2 separate regions of the Homo sapiens genome follow, and region 1 is linked to region 2. Evidence: fine-mapped expression QTL. Tissue or cell type: monocytes. Region 2 holds a variant in brackets; the other region holds the start of a gene. All regions are shown on one strand. Distances are between the middles of the regions.

Evidence for each region. PIP is the estimated chance that this variant, and not a neighbour inherited with it, causes the effect.
Region 1: it holds the start of DARS1, and the variant in region 2 is fine-mapped to the expression of DARS1 in monocytes (TOPMed, PIP 0.98).

Annotation. Positions count from the first base shown.
Region 1 is chr2:135,982,608-135,987,607 of GRCh38, forward strand. It overlaps DARS1 (aspartyl-tRNA synthetase 1), which reads right to left and starts at 3,019. Exons shown (of 16, transcript NM_001349.4): 1 at 2,796-3,019; 2 at 790-847. The coding sequence starts at 2,861. It overlaps DARS1-AS1 (DARS1 antisense RNA 1), which reads left to right and starts at 2,569. Exons shown (of 4, transcript NR_110199.1): 1 at 2,569-2,909. RefSeq lists a silencer at 2,656-2,715 and an enhancer at 2,766-2,865.
Region 2 is chr2:135,761,468-135,766,729 of GRCh38, forward strand. It overlaps UBXN4 (UBX domain protein 4), which reads left to right. Exons shown (of 13, transcript NM_014607.4): 6 at 351-444. Among named protein-coding and RNA genes, the nearest start is that of UBXN4, 22 kb to the left of the region's middle. The variant G/A (reference allele first, on the strand shown) is at 2,477.

The sequences.
Region 1 (5,000 bases), 220 kb after region 2:
AAAAGAAATATAAAGATGCCAACATACACTAACAAAAAAGAGCGGTTATAAGAAAAGATAGACTGGGGTCTAAGAATAATTCATTTCATTCCCAGACACTAAAGCTACGAGTAAACAAAATGGAGTGGGGGTGGAGGCTTTAAAACTCAAATCATAGTACTGCCAAAGAAGCCAGAGAAGATGTAAGATGGAAGGACCCATGGACTCTAGGGTCAGATGGCCTTTGGTTCTAATCCCAAGTCTGGCAGACTCTGTGTAAGTCAAGTTTCTTATCTTTCAACTTTGGTTCCTTAGTTTTCAAGGATGCTGTAGAGAATAAGTGAAAATATAAATGTTTGGGAAGAGTCAAGCAAAATAGGAATAAATAATAGCTAAAAACAGTCAGAGAAGTAAAGTTGTGGGGGTTGGGGGAAGTAAAAGAGGTAGCTTTATTAAAGCATGCAAAAAGGCTACATGTGATGAAGGCAGTTATTAGCCACTCTCCTATCTCCTAGACAACGGTTGAATCTTACCTAATAATTTAGGAATATTTAAAAAATATAATCTACCATTTAAAACATACCATTTAACCTACAATACCTAATAACATTTTTTTTCCTTTTCTAGAGTTGGAACCCTAAACTGACAATGTTTACACAGGGTTATGACATCTACTTGGATTATTAATGTCATTTAAGCTTTTCAGAATTATACCTTCAGATTTATGCCAACCTTACTTAAAATTTCATTTAGAGCTTTCCTGGAATTAGAAAGCAAAAAAGCTTTATTTACTGTCACATAGCTACTAACCTGGTTTTTCTTGTGATTGTATCATTGAAGATATTCCATATCTCTCTTTAGCATAATCCTACAAAAAAAGTTTTTTGCATCGTGACTTTTTATGTAAACACTAAGAGCACAGTAAACACATAAATACTAATAATAGAATATAAAAATGAATTTAACTTTCAGGATCATTTTATTAATTCAGAAAGTCAGTAGTTTCATAATGTGGAAATCTCTCATTCATTTACATATGTACTCTACAGAAAACAGAAAAGTACTGTTTCTGGTTAGTTTGTTTTGAAGATCACCACTCCTAGATGGATTTACCATACTTAATAACATTCTCAGATAAAATTTACACATATGTACAACACATCTTAACTACCTTCTTCAAAAAGATGAAACTACTTCAAAGCAGGGACATAAATTTCCTCTGTGAAGGGAGTAGGATGAAGTACCACAGTTTTATTAACTTCCTATTACAGGAAGAAATGTTCAAAGAGAACCAACGTTTTGGGTAAGCTTTCTGAGCACCAGATGTCCACAGTTTTTAGAAACTGGAGATGCTGGGTATAAGCTAACTACAACTTTCCTTTTGTAAAACATCATCAAAAAATTCACCAGCTTCCTGTTTCTAAAAACCAGATTCAGGATACCAGGTTACAGGAGTTTGACACTGACAATATAATAATATCAAATTTCTTGTTACAGATTAGAGTTAGGAACAGGAAACAGAAGACCTAGGGTCCAATCTGTTAACAAAATATACTTATTAAATAGATAAGTGGCCTTTATTTCAATCTTACTTTACCTCTAAAATGATCTAAGATTCTTCTAGCTATAAAATGGCATAACTCTGCCACAATGTCTACCTTGTATCTAGACCTATACTATCTGTAAGGGTACACTGATAGTTTATGTAATTAAGCAGATTAAGAGTACACAAAAATAATTGCCCTAGTTTTTACAAGGTAACTTAAGATCTGTATGAAACAATTAAGTTTCTGTCACTTTACAGCTACCTGTTGGAATCCTCTCCTTTAGAGCAGGAGGGTGCTGGATTTTGTGTTTACACCAAAATAAAACCAGACATGTTTAAGGCGCTTACTGAACAATTTAAAGAAAAAGATAACCCTGGCCAGAGTAGAGAGATACAGTCACACAATGAAGCCTGAGGGCAACAGAAGGAGATTAAATTGTGTGAAGGACAAAAAAGTTGCATTCATAATTAGTACTATTAATATTTCAGTGACTCTTCCTCATTTAGTATTCTAAGATGACCTTACTTCTCATGTTGCTTACCACAAACTCAGAACTCCTTATAGAAAAATTAGGGAGCCAGACGGAAATTAAGGCTTAACAGTACTACAGCACACATAACTTGTAGGATGGTTTCAAACTTTGATTTCTGAAAAGCACCGAAGGATCACTGGGTGTTATGAATTATCCACGTGATTTGGGGTCACTTCACCTCAAATGCATTCTCGGTAACTCCTATTACCTACCTTACCGGGTCACTGAGAGGGAGAAAGTAAATAAAAATGACATGTGTTCTTTAAAGCTGTCACATGGGAAATGGTCATTAAACATATTGGCAGATGGTTTTGCTAAGTACTGTCATTACTTGCTAAAGCATTAGGAACACGAGGGCTGAGTACATATCGATTACTAGTGCTTATTAAAATTTTCCCAGGGATTGTGCATTACGTGCAGGACGTGCCTAACCCAGAGAGACTCAAGTGTGACGCCGCGCTCCTACTTCCGGGGCGGCTGGTTCTTCCCGTCCTCCCCACCCCGGGGACACGCTTCTAGTAGGCCAAACTCCCAGGTGACCCCCGCAAGAAACGCGGTCCGGAGAGGGTCTGGCCCCACTGCTGGGGCAAGGGCTCTAGGCGCCCGGACCCCACGCCCGCAGCCTGCGGAGAACGTGCCGACAAGGACCTGTAGGGCCCCACTCCCCCTCCTCCCTCCCTCGGCGCAGCCCGGCCCAGGGGTCTGTCCTCCCAGGCCCAGGAAAGGAGGAAACCCACTTCCGCCGCGTCCATGATCTCCCGCGGCTTCTCCTGACTCTTGCGGCTGGCGCTGGCGCTGGGCATCGGGACACGGAACTGGGCAGTGGACACCACCCTCCCTCGCAGGCTTCCGTAAGGCAGGCCAAAGGGGCTTCTCCCTCCCTCCCAGTCTCCGCCCTCCCGACCCTGGGGTCTCAGCACACGCGCTCGGACTCCGCGTGGAGGTGCGGCTCCAGAAAGATCGCGAGAGCTGCGGCTATCTCGAGATCCCGGAGCGCTGGCGGCCGCGCGCAGGGTCTCCTCCCACTCTTGCCCCGCCCCTCCGGGAGTTTTCCCGGAGTTGGAGGGAATTCCCGGGAATTCGCGGTAGTTTCGCTGGATTGGCTCTGGGGGCGGGGGCAGGGGTTACCAGGTGGCTGGCTGTAGACCTGGGCGAATGCCAGCTCTCTTCAGCTTCGTCCCAACTGCGACTTCTGCTCCATTCTTCTAACAGCCCTTTCAACTCCGCTCGGCTGTAACCGCAGACTCGTCACTAAAACACCCACCTAAGCGCGGGCCTTGGTTTCTCCTCTCTTGGACTTTCCCGCCTTCTCTCTTCCCCTGGGCGACGTAGCTGCTTGGGGACGGAGGAGGCCTCTTCGCAATCCATTGCCCTGCTTGTTGGGACAGAGGAGTGCAGTTGGCTTGCCAAGGCAGCATGGGTTACCAGTCCCTGTGTAAGTGAGGTGTAAATACAGTGGCAACGACAACAAGAAACGCATACAATTGCATTGATTGCCTGGATCTGTTGCAGTGTTAGGGACAGTGCATAGTGTTGGTTGCCCAATGGGCGAATATCCCCAAGTTAGGCTTTTTTAAAAAACTGATTTTTTAAAAAAGCTATCATTCATGAGTTTTGAATCGAAATTGAAAATAATTTGGAGATTTGGTTTAATACTGTTTCCCCTGCCAGAGTTTGCACTCCGTCGTTTCAACTGACTTGGTAGTGTCTTAGTCTGGCACAAAGTGTTAAGGGGTGCACATAGATCCCAGCGCAAGTGAAAGGCTCTCTCTGGAGGCTCCCCCATGGAGTAGTGAGAAGACAGCCATGGTCCTTGCTTGCCTGTAGCTTTCCTTCTAATTGCAGGTGGTATGAAATTTTATTCCCTATTTAATTGATCAAAGATTATTTACAAACATCTACTTTGTGCCAGGCATTCTATCAGGTGCTGGCAATAAAAAGATAAGTCCTAGTTCCTGTTCTTAATATTACACAGGTACCTAGGCTGATAGATGCGCCATCTTGATACATGCTTCCATTATTACAGAGTCAGGAAGAGAATTTAGCTCTTAAAATGGCTGCCTGGAAGTGACACATTTCACATTCTCCTAGTTTATTGGCGAGAACAAGTCACATCGTCATTCCTGAGTTCATGGGGGCAGGAGAATTTACTCATTCCTTGGGGAGCAACACTGAATATTCATGATCAGTATCACATTCCGTTAAAAAAGGCATCCCATTATACTCATGGGATTCGAATACAGAAGGGGGTCTGTGAAGTTGCTTCATCTTGGAATTTTTTTTAAAACTTGGATTGCCTCAATCAGGTATAGTCCTAATGTATGGACTGGTTATCAGAAATCTGAATACAAATCCCATCTATTATCCCTTTGCTAGGGTAGCGATCTTACCTTTCCATCTGTCCATGAGGCCTGTCCATGTACTTCTTTCTTACTTTGGCCCCGTTGCCTTGATAAAAGTATTCTTATTTAGTCCTGGAATAAGACTGTAAATATATATTCTTGTTTCTGGCCTCCTTTCCTGATAGTGATAGAAAAGAAGCATTTGCCAGATCAGTGGCCACATGTCATATGCCTGAGGTCTTAAGAATCTGCTGTAGTAAAGATACCACAGCTGCAACTGAGGCTGTGACTTGGTTGAACTTGCAGTAGTCTACTGTCAAGTTCCTGAATTTGTCTGGTTTTTGCTGGAGCCACACCGGTGACAATAGGAATGTGATGGAGACTACCAACCATTACGTCTTTAAGGGTTGCACTGATCTCCACTATTCCCCTTGGGGACATGTTATTGTTTATGATTTCCTATCCTAGTTGGGGGCTGGGAAAGTGACTTTTAGAGATTTCCTCTTAGCTTTATCCGGTATGGTAGCCTATTCCACAGACCAAAGAATAGGGGAACAGCTCTGCTATGGTGCTCTGGCTGCTTTGCAGGATCCACATAAG
Region 2 (5,262 bases):
TCTAGTGGCTGCTGTGTTAGACAGTATAGATATTGGAGGGCACTGCTCTAGAGTGAAGGCTACCCATAGCCAGGCATGCCTCCTGCCAGATTGTTATTCATGTTTTACATCTGACCTTTACCTTGGTGATTTTAACTCGGTAACTGCTTTATTTCTATTTGTGAACAATTTTATCCACGTCTAAACTTTAGGATTAGTAATAGCATATTTAGCTCCTTCTCCATTTTTAGGGAAAATATATAATGCTTAAGATATAAAATTATTAACAGATGCTATAATCTGAAAGATTTATTCCTTTAAAAAGTTGCATTAAATGCAGTATTCTTATTTCTTTTTATTTAATAATTAAGGAGGAGAAAGTGCAGGCCATGCCACTTCCTCTCAGGAGCCTAGTGGATGCTCAGATCAGAGACCTGCAGAGGACCTCAACATCCGAGTGGAAAGGTTTGCTCTTCTTTTTGCAAATAGCATTTTGTTTAAAAAGACAGTGGTTTTCAGTTATTTCATTAATTTGAATTAAAGCTAAAGTTATACAAATGAAGTTTTAGAATTCTGAGTTGAAATTTTTGATCACCTAACTAATTTGTATCCATAAACATTACACTCTAAGTGTAAAGTTTTCATGTATGTCTGAAGTCACCAGTCAGCTTTTGGTCTGATCATTCTAAGAATCCCCTTTTTAATGGTATTTTGGTACATGGGTGTTTCCATCTGTCACTTCTGCTTTTATCTCTATGCCATAAGGATAATAAGCTCCAGATGGGCAAGAACTTCAGCTTATTTCATGACTATGTACTGAGCTTAAGTTCTGCATAAGTGGGTGTCTACTAAGTGGCATTTTTCATTAGTTGGTCTAATAATCAGATACAAATTTCTGGCTCTTTGTAGTTTCTAGTATTTTTAATGATACAGTAATTGTCAAATCATAGTCTTTTATGCTGTGATTCCTACATGAGTTAATAATTAGTGGTTAAGCGGGAATATTTTAAACCCTGATTTAAACCCCTTTAGCGTTAGTTATATGGAAGTTTAAAAAAATTCCTTAGCATTTAAAAATTTTTTTAAAAAAACCTTCCTTAGAGAGACTTGATATTTTCTTGTTCACATAGATGCTTCGGGGAAACAGGGTTCAAAGTGATTGCTGATATTGTCTTTGAGTTTGCTTGTGACTCAGTAAAGATCAGCTTCTTTTCAGCAAAACCTAGATTCTGATTGTTCTTTGTAGGGGAAGGGGCAGTGCCCAGACCTTGAGGTGAAAAGCAGGCTGGACCTCACAGTGGTGAGGAAAGTGGTATAAGCCTAGAAGAATAGCAGCAGGAAACTTAAGTTCCCAAGGGTTCATCCTGTTTTGCTTCTTTCTGATTTGCTAACACCAGGCCCACTACTCTGTACCTTTATTTGCACCACTCTGGGCTGAAGTGAAAATAAAAAATCTGGAAAAGGGTTTGGAGACTTGGGGCAAAAACCTGAATTACATCAGGTAGCCCTTTATTTTGAGGTGGGGTCAGGCGCTATTTAGTTATACTGGAAAAAGTTTTTAATAGCCTCCATTCTTATGTAGGGGAATGTCAGCTAGTGTCTGCCTGTGTCATAGTACTAATTAATTCACAAGCTGAGATCCTGCATTTTATTCATCTGCGTTCATGCCAAATTAGGAATCTTGTTCCTTTTGTGGAATCTGATTCATTGACAATGACAATAACTAATAACACCAGCGTATGTAATATTCCCATTCCAAATGTCCACTTAGCTCATTATTTATACCCTAAGAGTTGCCATCGTTCTCACCATCCCCTGCCATAGACTGTGAAGCTCTTGTGCCCTCAACTAACTCATCCCCTGCCATCTTTTGCAGGGTATTGAACTGTGAAACTACTAGTTTCCCTGTCTCTCTGAACTGAAGTGCTTTTTCTCAGCCTGGTTAAGTTGGACCCATCAGTCCCTGTTGTGTAATCTGATATTTTAGAATTATATGAAGTTCTATAAAGCAAAATTCATGCATTTTTCTCTGACCTTGATGGTATTTTAAAATCTATTTCATACAAATTAAAAATTCAGAGTTAAAATTTGGCAGGGGCTGTGAGTGGTGGCTCACGCCTGTAATCCCAGCACTTTGGGAGGCTGAGACAGGTGGTTTGCTTGAGCCCAGAAAATAGAGACCAGCCTGGGCAACATGGCAAAACCCCATCTCTACAAAAAAATACAAAAATTAATTGGGTGAGGTGGTGCACACCTGTAGTCCCAGCTACTCAGGAGGCTGAGGTGGGAGGATCACCTGAGCCCAGGAGGTCAAGGCTGCAGTGAGCCATGATCACACCACTGTACTCCAGCCTGAGTGACAGAGCAAGACTCTGTCTCAAAAAGTAAATAAATAAGACCAGGCATGGTGGATCACGCCTGTAGTCCCAGCACTTTGAGAGGCTGAGATGGGTGGATCATTTGAGGCCGGGAGTTCAAGACCAGCCTGGCCAACGTG[G/A]CGAAACCCTGTCTCTACTAGAAAAATACAAAAATTAGCTGGGCATGGCACGCATCTGTAGTCCCAGCTACTCAGGAGGTTGAGGCAGGAAAATTGCTTGAACCCGGGATGCAGAGGTTGCAGTGAGCCAAGGTCATGCCACTACACTCCAGCCTGGGTGACAGAGTGCTACTCCGTCTCAAAATAAATAAAATAAAATAAAATAAAAAATAAAGCAGGATGGATTAGCAAATGTAAGATTCTTACTTTCCTCTCAGGCTACAGTTGAAACTGAGATCTATTTCCAAAGACCATGTTTTTGGAAAACTAATTACTGTAGTTGACTTTAAGTCTTAGGCTTTTTTCTCATCTAGCTTCAAAGAAAACTAATTTTGTTAAGGGAAAGGGTGACTAAATCAAATTGACATTAGTGAGAAATTCATCCTATCTTGTACATAAGAACATAGTCCTTCAATCTTGAGCTGCATTTTGTCAAGTAAACATAATTAAAAAAAAACGGATTGGTGATTTGAAATTGTGAGATCTAAGTTTTTATTTTTAATATTAATGGATATACAATGGTTATTTATTTATTTATGAGGCAGAGTCTTGCCCTGTTGCCCAGGCTGGAGTGCAGTGGCATGATCTTGGCTCACTGTAGCCTCTGACTCCCGGGTTCCAGCGATTCTCCTGCCTCAGCCTCCCAAGTAGCTGGGATTACAGGCATGCACCACCACACCCGGCTAATTTTTAAAATATTTTTAGTAGCAACAGGGTTTCGCCATGTTGGCTGGGCTGGTCTTGAACTTCTGACTTCAGGTCATCTGCTCACCTTGGCCTCCCAAAGTGCTGGGATTACAGGTGTGAGCCACAGCACCTCGCCTGTGATGGTTTTTTGTTTGTTTGTTTTTGAGATGAAGTCTGGCTCTGTTGCCAGGCTGGAGTGCAGTGACATGATCTCGGCTCACTGCAACCTCCTCCACCCAGTTCAAGTGGTCCTCGTACCTCAGCTTCCTGAGTATCTGGGATTACAGGTATGCGCCACCATGACTGGCTAATTTTTGTATTTTTAGTAGAGACAGGGGTTTGCCATGTTGGCCAGGCTGGTCTCGAACTCCTGGCCTCAAATAATCCACCCGCCTTGGCTTCTTCAAGTGCTGAGATTACAGGCTTGAGCCACCACGTCTGGCCAGGATATACAATGTTTCACTAAAGTAACAGATGTGAAATAGGAATCTTTTAGCGAATCTTTAGTTAAAATGCATTATTTTGTTTATTTCATTATGTTTTTTTTTTTTTTCCCTGAGATGGAGTTTTGCTCTTGTCGCCCAAGCTGGGGTGCAATGGCACAATCTCGGCTCACTGCAACCTCCACCTCCCAGATTCAAGCGATTCTCCTGCCTCAGCCTCCCGAGTAGCTGGGATTACAGGTGCCCACCACCACACCCGGCTAATTTTTATATTTTTAGTAGAGGCAGGGGTTTCACCATGTTGGTCAAGCTGGTCTCGAACTCCTGACCTCAGGTGATCTGCCCGCCTCGGCCTCCCAAAGTGCTGGAATTACGGGCATGAGCCACCACACCCAGCCATGTCATTATGTTTAAAATGGGCAGAATTATCTGGCAAAGATAATATATACTACCATGAATTCTAGTCTTTTTATTTGAATAAGTTTCAAACCTCAACGTTGAAAAAATAGTGTAATGGCCATCTTTTAATTTTTTTCTTTTTTTTTTTCTTCTGATTCATTTGAAAGTTGCAGACATAATTTCACTTCATGCCTAGATACCTCAGCATGCAGCTCCTAGGAAGACATTGGCTGAGGGTCTGTGGGCTTTGAGCAGGGACTCCATCCTAGGCCAGGATCTGGGGATCTGTGCTCACAGACCCATGTCCTGCCCCCTTCTGGCACCCAAGCAGGCATAGTGACCATTAAGAAGTAGATGCCAGCCCGGCACAGTGGCTCATGCCTGTAATCCCAGCACTTTGGGAGGCCGAGGTAGGTGGATCAACTGAGGTCAGGAGTTCGAGACCAGCCTGAGCAACATGGTGAAACCCTGTCTCTACTAAAAATACAAAAATTACCCGGACGTAGTGGTGGGTACCTGTAATCTCAGCTATTTGGGAGGCTGAGGCAGGAAAATTGCTTGAACCCAGGACGTAGAGATTGCAGTGAGCTGAGATTATGCCATTGCACTCCAGCGTGGGCAATAAGAGAGAAAAGCCATCTCAAAAAAAAAAAAAAGTCGAAGCCCAAATGTAGAAGTTATGGAACAGTCAATTTGTTATTAAATTAGATGCAGTGTAGCTTTTCACCCAAATTAAAACAAACTTGCGTTTGTATTTCTCAGAAGAAAATTCTACAGATGGTCTATAAATACGTTTATACACCATTTTCAGATGGTGTATATTTTCAGATACAAGCACGATACCATTATCATACTCAAGAAATTCTCAATTGATACAGTAAGATTATCTAATTTGTCCGTATTCAGATTTCCCAGTTGCTCCAATAATGGCCCTTTTAACTTTTCTTCCCTTGATTCAAGATCCAGTCAAGGATTGTTCATTGCATTTAGTTTAGGCTCTGAATCCAAGACACTTCTTGTTTGCATTTTTCATGATTTAGACATTTTGAAGAGTCTAGGTTAGTTGTTTCTACAATGTCCTTTGATCTGCTCCCTGTTCTATCATTAGATTCAGGTTAAACTCTGATAAGAACATTACCAAGATAATGTTTTGTCCTTTCCATTACTCATATCAGGAGACAAGTAATATGAGATGTATGCATTATTGGAGCTGTAAAG